Linked DNA regions of Homo sapiens: region 2 is linked to region 1. Evidence: fine-mapped expression QTL. A gene starts in region 1. The other region holds a variant in brackets. All regions are shown on one strand. Distances are between the middles of the regions. Region 1 holds the start of BHLHE40 (basic helix-loop-helix family member e40). Region 2 overlaps BHLHE40-AS1 (BHLHE40 antisense RNA 1).

The links. PIP is the estimated chance that this variant, and not a neighbour inherited with it, causes the effect. A credible set is the group of variants that fine-mapping cannot tell apart.
Region 2: its variant is the best candidate, but not a certain one, in a credible set for the expression of BHLHE40 in whole blood (TOPMed, PIP 0.60).

What each region holds. Positions count from the first base shown.
Region 1 is chr3:4,977,136-4,982,507 of GRCh38, reverse strand. BHLHE40 (basic helix-loop-helix family member e40) reads right to left here and starts at 3,071. Exons shown (of 5, transcript NM_003670.3): 1 at 2,710-3,071; 2 at 2,477-2,546; 3 at 2,100-2,207; 4 at 993-1,116. The coding sequence starts at 2,789. It overlaps BHLHE40-AS1 (BHLHE40 antisense RNA 1), which reads left to right and starts at 2,547. Exons shown (of 3, transcript NR_125916.1): 1 at 2,547-2,713. RefSeq lists enhancers at 2,088-2,682, 2,790-2,939, 4,240-4,359, 4,490-4,539, 4,660-4,849 and silencers at 3,090-3,149, 3,360-4,129.
Region 2 is chr3:4,905,983-4,911,354 of GRCh38, reverse strand. All of the region lies in intron 1 of BHLHE40-AS1 (BHLHE40 antisense RNA 1), which reads left to right. Among named protein-coding and RNA genes, the nearest start is that of BHLHE40, 71 kb to the left of the region's middle. RefSeq lists enhancers at 4,721-4,860, 4,498-5,203. The variant T/C (reference allele first, on the strand shown) is at 2,289.

The DNA of each region.
Region 1 (5,372 bases):
AGCGAGGCAGCAAAGAACATTCTGATGTATTTATAAACCTAAGAGTCAATGCATACAACATTGCACCGTGGCAAAATGGGCAGAGGCTGGATAGTTATAAAATGAGGAAAAGAATGAAGAAACAACAATCACCTAAAGTAAACTTATTTTCAATGATTTGTAAAAGTTGCAGTCATGCTGTGACCTTTAATTAGGCTATTTCTATGTCTTCTCCACATATTCTATCCATGATCCTCAAGACATTAGGTATGACCATCTTCCTATTTTGAATGAGGAAACAGGCAGAAGCACTAGCTGGGTTTTTGCAATTTTCATCATACGAGCCTTCGAGAGGAAGGCAGACAAGCATGAAATGAGGGAGTGGGTAGAATAATTCTCCCCAGTCTGTACAGTATTATTTGGAAGAAGTGAGACTAGAAGGTTAGAAGGTTGACTCCGATTATCTGGAAGTCAGTAGAAACGAATGATGAAACTTCAGTGGTTTCGCTAGATTGTGCAATTCACCAAGATACCTAGTGGCTATTCAGGGAACCACATGAAATGCAGGAAAAACTCCTGCTGTATCCTGCCAGGATCACACCACACACCAAGTGACAAGGAAGCAAAGAAACAGGAAAACGCTGGGGCATACCCATGATTTCTTCTCCAATGAAAGAGGGCTAAGAAGACCAACTGTAAAACACCCACAATGCAAATTATAGGTGCCTTGGCATTTTAAAAGGGAGTAGGGAAATCTCCCAGAACCCAGAGACTCTCAAGCTAAAATGCCACAGGAATATCTTATCATTTCACTAATACGTATTCATGCCAGGTGGCACAATGCATTTCAAATGAAAAGTCTGACCTTTTAGGAAAGATAAAACTGCATCTCCCCCAATGAACGTGCATAAGCAATTTGTTGCAGTAATGTTTATTACATCAGATGTTGAGCCCACGGGCTCTCTATTTGCACTCAAACTCTTAAAGAGAGCATAGCCAGAATCAGCACTCACCAGCTTGTAAACCACTCTGCAGGGCAATGATTTTCTGCTGCTGCTGATCAATTAGGTTTGTTAGTGCTTTCACATGCTTCAAGGTAAGTTCAAGAACCACTGCTTTTTCCAAGTGACCCAAAGTCTGGAAGGAAAAGAGCCTTAGTCAGCGGTGAGGTCAGAGAAGTCCCACCTTTGGGACATTTATTAGCAATGAGAAATGAGAAAAGAAAAAAAAAAGTGGAATAGTGTTTCCTGGTTGGCTGTTTTAAGTCTGTAGGTCATGCTTTTAAAAAGATAGACAGATACACTCATATATGTGTGTGTGTGTGTGTGTGTGTGTGTGTGTGTATATATATATAATATATATATATAATTAAATAATTTAAAAAAACGGGTGCCACCTGTCTTTGGAGGCATTTTGGAAGCTGCAACTACCTCAGGAAAATCCTTTGACAGATAAATTTCTCCAGCAGCCTCTGCCGACCTTAACTCAGGGGAATCCAGAGATAACATTTTCCTGCAGTGGTGTCAACTCAGAGAGGGACCTCTATTACGTCTGGCAGCCAAGAGGCTTTCCCTACTTCTTTCCTTACACCCTTTCAGAACTTCCAGCTCATCCAGGCTTTTTTGTTCCTCCCGAAATACTATTTTTTTTTTTTCCATTTCCCCAACCAAAGGCTGCGAAGTAGCCGAGGGCTACTGTCAAGAAAGGACAGGCCGTAAAAATCACACACCAAAGCAAGTCCCCTTATTTGACAACAACAACAAAAAAGGTGGGGGGAGTGGTAGAGGGGAAGGGGTAAATAAAATGTGTGTGTTTCTTGGCGTGTTCCTTTAAGTGAGAAAAACTAGGGAATCCTGAAAATCACCAGAAGTTAAACTCCTGAAAAGGAAGGCCAGTTGGTGTTGGAGCCAACTTGGAGAGGTCCAAGTGGTTCTCGCCTCATTTGCATGAGTCAGCCAGAAAACGCCAGGACTGTGGAGGAGGACCCCACCGCAGAGCCACCCGCCAGCTCTGATCCGCCAGTCTGGTCTGCAGTTCCCCGCGGAACCTGCAGGCGGCGAGTGACCCGCCCGCCCTCTGGGCAAAGGACTGGGTTGGAAAGGGGCCAGCTTCTCACTTACTGTAAGTTTGAGATGTTCGGGTAGGAGATCCTTCAGCTGGGCGATGCACTCGTTAATCCGGTCACGTCTCTTTTTCTCGATGAGCCGGTGCGGCAATTTGTAGGTCTCCTGCAAGACGCACGGGGAGGCGGTGGGCGCTTGGGGAAGGAGATGAGAAGCCTATCCTCCCAGCCCCGCAGCAACAGTCCGGCAGAGGAGCAGAGTAGCAGAGTAGCACCCAGAACCATCGTCTGCCCTTTCTTTTCCAAGTCACTCAGAAGAGGCACCGAGCCCACACCCTGCATCCCCTCGCCAACCTCAAAGCGAGAAAACTTTTCTTGGAAACTCAGCGCGCGCGAGGGGCTGAGCGCAGGGTCCCTAGGGGTGCACTTGCTTACCTTGCTGTCCTCGCTCCGCTTTATTCCCCGTCTTGACTTGTACACTTGGTACATGTGGGCAGGGTACATCCTGCAGGAAGAGAGACCAGGAAGGGTCGTGACTGCTTGCGCACGGCTGCAGGCGTTCTGCCGGGCAAGAACCTCCCGGTGCGCCCGGAGCTGCTCCAAGTTGAGAGTGGCGCATAACATGGGGCTGCAGTTGAGGCTTGAAGGGCCAAGGAGTGCCAACTTACCCTGGTAGGTCTCCGTGCTCCAGTCCCGGTGCTTTGGGCAGGCAGGCGGGGGGTGGTTGCGCGCTGGGGATCCGCTCCATGGCGCGGCGAGCCGGGGCCACTGCGCGCTCCTGTCTGCACTAGCGGAGCGTCTGGATGAGGACTGCCCTGGAGAGGGCTTCGGGGGTCTCTCCGCAGATGTTCCTCTGAGTCTGAGCTCTTTGAAATCCCCTGGGCTGCTGGAATCTTCGGCTTTGAGATGCAGCTTCAGTTGGGGGCGTGCATGGCCCGGTGTCCCCGCGGCCTCTGGCTCCGACTCAGCGCACAGACTGGCGGTGTGTGCTCCCTGCGCGGTCTGTCTGCGCCGTGCGAGCCAAGTGAATGAGAAGTGGGGCGGGCGGGGAGGCGGGAGGGAGCGGGTGAGGGGGGGGCGGTTAGGGCGGAGTGGGGGGGTGGGGGGGCAAGCCGAGGAGTAATGGAGAGGCTGCGGGCTGGGTTAAATGGGAGCGAGTGGGTGGGTTGGAGCTACGTGTTCTACCCTGTGACTCCAGGCACGTCTGGCCACTGCCGGGGAGGGAAGGAGCGACCTGCCCGCCCTCCCCCGGCTTCATCACATGAGTCTCACGTGTTGGACAACGCTCCGGCGGCTGCTAGGGAGCCCCCACCCCCAGCCCCGGCCCCCAGGTGTCTGCGGCTGCGGCCGCCTTTCCCCGAAGAGGGGGTGGCAGCACGACCTGGGTCCTGCCCAGTTGGGTGGGGGGCGCGGAAGCTGGAAGGGACGGGGGTGCTGGGGGAGGGGGAGAAGTTGGTAACGTGGGCGAACCTGCCCCAGGGAAATGAAGTAAGTTCCCGTCTCCTGGGAGGGAACGGGGGAGGACGGATCCGCCCGCGTCTGACTCAAGCCGGGAGAGGAATATCCCCTTGCTAGCTCCAGCCCAGCCCTCTTCCTCCTCCCCCGCCCGGCCCGCTTGGAGGAACCGGCGCGCTGCGGAGGGAGTCGCCCGGCCCCCCAGCCTTCCCCAGAGGCTGGGGTTTCTTTCCGTCCTGGCTTCCCTGCCCCCACTGCTCACCCTCGCGTCCAGGAATTGCCCGCCTTGGGGAGGGACCGAGGGGCGGGGCGGATGTCACCCCATGGGAAGCGGGCCGACGGCCAAGCGCAGGGGCAGCTGAGGCTGCCGCCGAGCACGCCGCGCGCACCTGACCGTGGAGGGTGTGAGCCGAGGGCCCCTCGCTCCCAGGAGCTCCGCTCCTGGGCACAACCTGCGGGCGGGCGGGCACCCGGTTGCGCAGCCCCCTGGGTGCCCCAGTGTCACCCCCTTCCTCCCGGCCAGTCAAGCGCAGAAAGATACCGGGCGCTGTGCCCGGCGCTCCCTCCCTCCTCTGCCCCCTCCGGAGCAGAGGCGCCCCGGTCGCCTCCCCTCCGGCTGCAGCGTTACACAACCGCGGCGGCGGCGCCTGCCCTGCAGCAGCGCAGGGCGTGACGCTTCACGTGGCCGGGCTCAGGTCGTAGCACCGCGGACCGCGAGCCTCTCTGCGTTGACCCAGGGACTGAGACCCCGGGGACGTGGCGTGCCAGCCCGGATCGGCCCTCTCCCTGCCTGTTGGGAAGTTCGGCGGCGCTGTTCGCGGTCTGCACCCAGGGCAGGAGGGATGAGAGAGACAAGAAAAAAAAACCGCCTGTTACAGGGAAATCTTAGCAATCATGCGGTCGACACGTATTTCTTGAGCCCCCTGCTCTGCACTAGGCGCTGCACTAGTTGATGAATCCGACACGGATCCTGCCCTTGAACTTGCAGAACCTCTAGGAAGAGGTTAAATTGAGCAATAAAGGAAAGGCAGCCCTGGGAAAATTGTATCGAGGCCACTGGCTGACAGAGGGGAAAAACAATGAGAACTTGTGTTGCTTTGTGTTTTGTTTTTAATTTCATTGTAACCGAGATGCCTAGGTAGAGAAGCGGGGGAGAAGCTAACCCAAAGCCCCAAGCCCGGGGCGGAAGGACCTCCTCCAGCGGCCCCAGATCTCTGCAATCTCACTTAGGCTGCCGGAGGGCCCCACCCACCTCCCCCGGAAAGGTCCGGGCTCTGTGACCTTCTCACTCAGCCGGGAGCAGGGAAAACAGCTGAAACTCCAATCCCGCGGTGTGAGCAGCGCTGATACAGTCAGAGGAGGGAGCCAGTGGAAACTCATGACTAAAATAAGGCCTGGCTGGGGATTTCACTGACCTCTGCGCTCCCCTGCCCTGCAAGTTCGGGGAGTTGAGAGATGACTGTAAGCCCTTCCCACTGCGCTTCGGGTCAGTCACCCCACTGCTGAGTGACCTGGCTGTGGGAAGGATTGAAAAAAAAATGGGGTCACTGCCGAGACTGGGCGAAGAGTAGTAGCCTCGGGTGCAGTTAGGGGATCAGTCTTAACTGGCAGTGCCCTTGACGACCTAGAGAACTGGCATTCACAAGTTGACCAAACTGGCAGTGTATTTCCTTCAGGTCGCCTTGGAGAGCTCCCGCTTCCTGTTTATATTTCACAAGCGTCAAACTCTTTAGCAAGTGTGAGAAATGCCTCCTTTTCTAACTGCTAACTGGCATGACCTCACTTCGGGGCTCAGAGATCCCTCCCTGCCAGAATGTACTTTTGCTGGCCAAAGGCGGGGACCGGGGTCCGCCCTGGAAACGCGCTTTCAATCTTG
Region 2 (5,372 bases), 71 kb after region 1:
CAGGGAAGGATGAACTATTTAATGTCGTTAATTATTCCTGTTTTGTTCACAGTGATAATCTGTCTTAAGACACCCCAAGACACACCCTGAGTTTGGACTCTGCTCTCTCCTTAAACTCTCCAATATTAGCAGATATGCAAGAACTCAGGAAGACAACTGTTGATAAAGTATCAGCTAGTATCCAAAAAGATCTAAGGCCCATATGTATCTGAACATAATCACATCCCTCATCTCACCCTGCAATAGAAGGAGTGCTCCTTTACCATGCACTCACCTGAGGATGTGCAGTCTGTATTCCTCTTTAAGTGCTGGGCCATGTTTACACTGTATATGTGCACTCCCCCTTCCAAACCTGGTATAGAGTGTCTGGATGCTCTCCCCTTCCTTACTTCAAACCTCAGCTTGGATATCACTTCTTCTGGGAAGGCTTCTTTGACCATGCTAAGATGGGGCGGGGGTCAGGGCTGCCACATTGCACAGCTGCAGGGGACATCATTCAGCAAAGTCTCAGGATACAAAATCAATGTGCAAAAGTCATAAGCATTCTTATACACCAATAACAGACAAACAGAGAGCCAAATCATGAGTGAACTCCCATTCACAATTGCTTCAAAGAGAATAAAATACCTAAGAATCCAACTTATAAGGGATATGAAGGACCTCTTCAAGGAGAACTACAAACCACTGCTCAGCGAAATAAAAAAGGACACAAACAAATGGAAGAACATTCCATGGAAGGGCATTGTGTTTCAAGTGAATCCTGACCCCTCTGGTGTTAGGCCATGGAGCAGCCCTCTCACAGTGCTACCTCTGCCTTGGTAGCACTCTGGGTTTACCTCTTCCAGGGACTTCACTGCTGGATTGTAATTGCCTGTTTCCTTGTCTACCTCTCTCAAGGGCAGGGACTATATCATAGAACACTGAAGTTTACGCAGATGGTGTGCTCAGTAAAAGCTACTAAAGGATTGAAAGTGTTGTTGAGTTGGGTGGCCCTGGGTCCAGCATTTCCTGAGGGGTGGCCCCGATCAGCCGGTTGCTGTGGTCTTGTTTTGGAAGAGGGCGCTACTAAACCCATATAGAGGGCTTCCTATTTCTTGTTGCTTATGAATATCACCTACTGCCTGGCCCCGGGGCCTTGTGTACTTTCTCAGAGAATGGGACCACGTTGGGAGCTAGAATGGGAGAAAGAGGGGCTGAATAAATCCAGGCATCCCAGCCCTCTTACAACCCCTTCTCTTTAATGAGAGAGACTTGTAAGTCCTAAGTCCAATTTTTAGTGACAGACGATTCTCTAATCAAGAAGGTCTGACTTAATATTTATTTATTTAATGAGCATATAAATATATACGGAAGTATCAAAAAATCATTGAAATCAAAAAAGTTGGTTCTGCTTTGTGGAAAACAAATCCTTCTGCTGTAGTATATTTTTCCATTAAAAAAAAAAGTTGATTTTCAGAGTCCTGCCAACAACATTCTAAATGTAAGTGCTAGATTTGCAAATAGGCTTATATTCATATTTAGAGAATATGCATATTCAGAGACTTATTATTCAGGAAATATTTGGTTATCTTCAGACTAAGTAAAACTTATGGCTAAAAATAAGAGGGGTAACATATAAATAGTGGGGAAAGTTAGGGAGCATGAACAGCAGCCATGGCAAGAATAGAATTGAGAGGAAGAGGTACAGAGAACTGCGTGTTATTTTTCTGTTTTGGTTTTTGTCTTCACCACTACCTAAAATTCCATTCCATTCCATTCTATTCAATGTAACAAACATTAGCTGGGTGCCTGGCACGCAGAAGATCTGAAAATGCAATTTTTGCCCCCATGTTCTTAGAGCTGGATGGGCAAGATACAATGGAATAAGGTTGCCTCTCTGACATCCTCTCCTCCACCATGATGTAGCCACTCTGTAGTTATGGGGTTGGACTTCAGTTCCATGGGTAGCACTGACTGGTGTAAACCTGTCAAGGTAGCCCTACTCCCTGCCAGCAATTGGTTCAGATACCCAGGCTCAAGCCTGGCATGGCACTCCTTAGGCAACAGTGGCTGGTTCAGGAATGGTGTGTGACTCTGTTTAGGCCAAGGAGATAAAAGGGAGTTTTCTGAGGATTCCAGAGAAAGTTTCCTGGCTACAAAAATAGAGAATAGACAGTAGAGTATTCTTCTTATAGTCCCTTTTGGGCAGGGATAGGAGGCCCTGAACCATTGCATCCTCTTGCTGTTTGTCTCAGGATAAACATCGTAAACACAAATCAGTAGAGTCAATAAAATCACAGAGAAATAGA[T/C]CAAGAACTCTGATCCAACTTTGCTTGAACCTGCACTACTCCTTAACTCTTAGTTCCATGAGTCAGTAGATCTTTTTTCTCGTTAAGGCGGTTTGAATTGGCTTTTCTCATTCTAACTGATGCAAGTGATAAGCGCACTGGTACCTGCAATGCTTGTCAGGAGATGGATGACACATAATAGAAAGATTACCCAGGAAAACAAAGCAAGGTCTAGCGGGGATGAGATCCCGTACCTAGGAGTAATAGAATGCAAATAATAAAAATATTGTTATTTGAAAGTTAAACTGGGCCCACAAATATGAATTAATATCTAACAAAACAAATAGCAAACATTAAATAAGAGAAACCTAAGTTGGAAATGAATCATAGAATTTGAGAGTTAGACAAGATCTCAAAGCTTAGATAGGAAAACCCCTAGATTTCCTGTACAGAAATAGGTTCTGAGAGGTTAAGTAACTTGTTGAAAATCACACAGCTAAGTCAAGCGAGGCTGAGGACCCGGCTTTCTTGAATTCCAAATGGGGTTCTTTCTGCTGCATTACATAGTTTCCTCTCTGAAGATATAAAATGAAATAGGAAAATGGTATTTCTAAATGTCAGCATAGGAAGAAGAGTGAGGAAAATACTGCATTTTTATTTAACGGGGATTTGGGAGGCTCATAATAGAAATTTTGGATGTTTTGTTTTTAAATAAGACTGTGGCCTTTACTAAAAGGTTGAGCATATGCTACAGCATGGAACCACCTGGGGTAGCACTGTTGCTAAGCGCCCCACCAAAAGCAAGGCAGGGCTGGTTCAACCCATGCTCACCCCAAACTTGTGACCTGACTCCAGCTGTTCATTAGCTGGCTGTTGCTAAATTTAGACTCTGTACATTCTTTACAAGATCAAAAGTCAATCCATAAGGAGTCAGACCAATAGCGTATTCCACCTGCTGTCCACCCCAACACTGGCACTGTTTTTCTCACTTTCTTCTTCTACGTATTAAGTGAGGTAGGAAATTCCAACTGAACCACAGTGCTAAAACAGCAGTAAAACAGATCTCCAAGAACTGGATTCTGTCTCAGGTGTTCTATTTTAATTGCTCTAAGATCTTTAAACACATTGTTTTATCTCTGAGCCTCCATTTCCTTGTGTATTAAATAACAAATGCCCTGCCTCCCTTCAGGGTTGCTGTGAAGATCAAAAGAACTAATGATTGTGAAAGCAGTAGGCGAATTCTACAGCCCTGTGATCTAACTTCAGGCCCCTCAGTTTAAAGACAAGGGAGCCCCAAGCTACTGACGAGTTTCCTTAGGCCGCCCAGTCTCCTAGTGACAGGTAGAACTACCCCTTCCTAAGAATGAAGTGACAACCTCCAGGACAGAGATTCATAATTACATTCAAAACAGCCACAAGATTTGCTAGATCTATTCAATAGCTGCCTTACGAAGCTATATGTGAATGTGGGACTCTATTCCCTCTTTTTTAGTGATGCTCCAGATGTAATAAAACATTATACACAATGTCAAGAGAGATTGCTGCGAACAATCTAGCCCAATGATGTCCATTTCAAAAACAGTTTCCAGTGCTATTTTGCTTTCTGGCTAGTGAAAAAAGAATTCTCAAAGAACAAAAGGGAATTTTAACAAAGGAAATGGAATTATTCCTTGTGAACATGCATTCATATTACAGCCATTCAATAAATTGTCCTGTTCTTTAGAGCTTTTATAAATTCTCTTTTACCCTGAATTTGAGAGCCCTGCAACTTGAATACTTGAGGGATTGATTCACACTTACAGTCTCCAGGGTTAACAGTTTAAACAAGTGACACCTCTGCTTCACTAAAAAGGACTCTGAGATCTCACGGTCTATCATATTAGCATTCTTTCTACACTTTATGTATTTGTCTGTTTGTGGCTTTCCATAGAGGGAATTGAAGCAGCTTATACAAATATAGGCTCTGCTTAAGAATAAAATAAACTGAAATGAGTTTGAGGAAAGAAAAAAAATATGGCTAAGAAAATATAGGCTGGGTACAGTGGATCACGCCTGTAATCCCAGCTATTTGGGAGGCTGAAGCGGGAGAATTACTTGAGGCCAGGAGTTTGAGACCAGCCTGGACAACATAGTGAGACCTTGTCTCTAGAACAAACAAAAAATTAAAATTAGCTGGGCAGGGTAGCGTGTGCATGTAGTCCCAGCTACTCAAGAGACTGAAATGGGAGGATGGCTTGAGCCCACGAGGCCACGGCTGCAGTGAGCTATAGTCACCCACTGCACTGCAGCCTGGGAGACAGAGTGAGACCCTGTCTCAAAAAATAAGTAAAAAAGAAAATATGATGGTTTGCTAGATAGATATATGTATATGCATATTTGAATATGTGTGTGTGTGTGTGTATACATATACATACATACCCAATAGCCCAATTCACTTGCAAGCAGTAGAGGATTAAAAAAGACTAAGCCTCCTCACAGCCAGTGCAAAGACAAGTCATTGCTACCTGGTGATTGGCGTTTGGCTTATAGTCAGCAGCCTACGCTGGGCTAGAGAGAAGGGGTGGAAAGCAAGCTTGGCTTATAGCCAGTGCTGTGTATGCAGCCATATAGTGAATGCCTTCATTTGCACCCTGAACTCTGAATAGTCACTTTTAAAACATCCATCTGTCATCCATCTAGTGAGGTCAGGAGAGTGGCTGCTTAACTTCTGGGGTGAGTAATTCATCTACAGATTCACCTACCCCAAGCAAAGTGGGTAATATTTAAATTCAAAGCCTGCATTTGTTCTACAGAAACCACTTGCAGAGTCCGCTGCCTTGGTAATGTATTGCCCTAGGCAACTGCTTGTTCTGACTCTGTTCTTTTCCCAGCTGGAGTCATTGTTTGGACTTATTTGTATGAGTTAATGCTTCTTGGGTACCCAGAAACCTATTCCCAGAGCTCACTCATTAGTCAAGTTGGTTTTTTTCACTAATCAATTATGTTCTCTTTAAACTAGCTAATCTGAAGTAAAGCAAGTTAACTAATTTGGAGAAGGGTGTTTAAATCATTGTAATATAATGTTTTCATGAAAAGTGCTTCTGTGAATGAGAGTCAGGTTGTGTA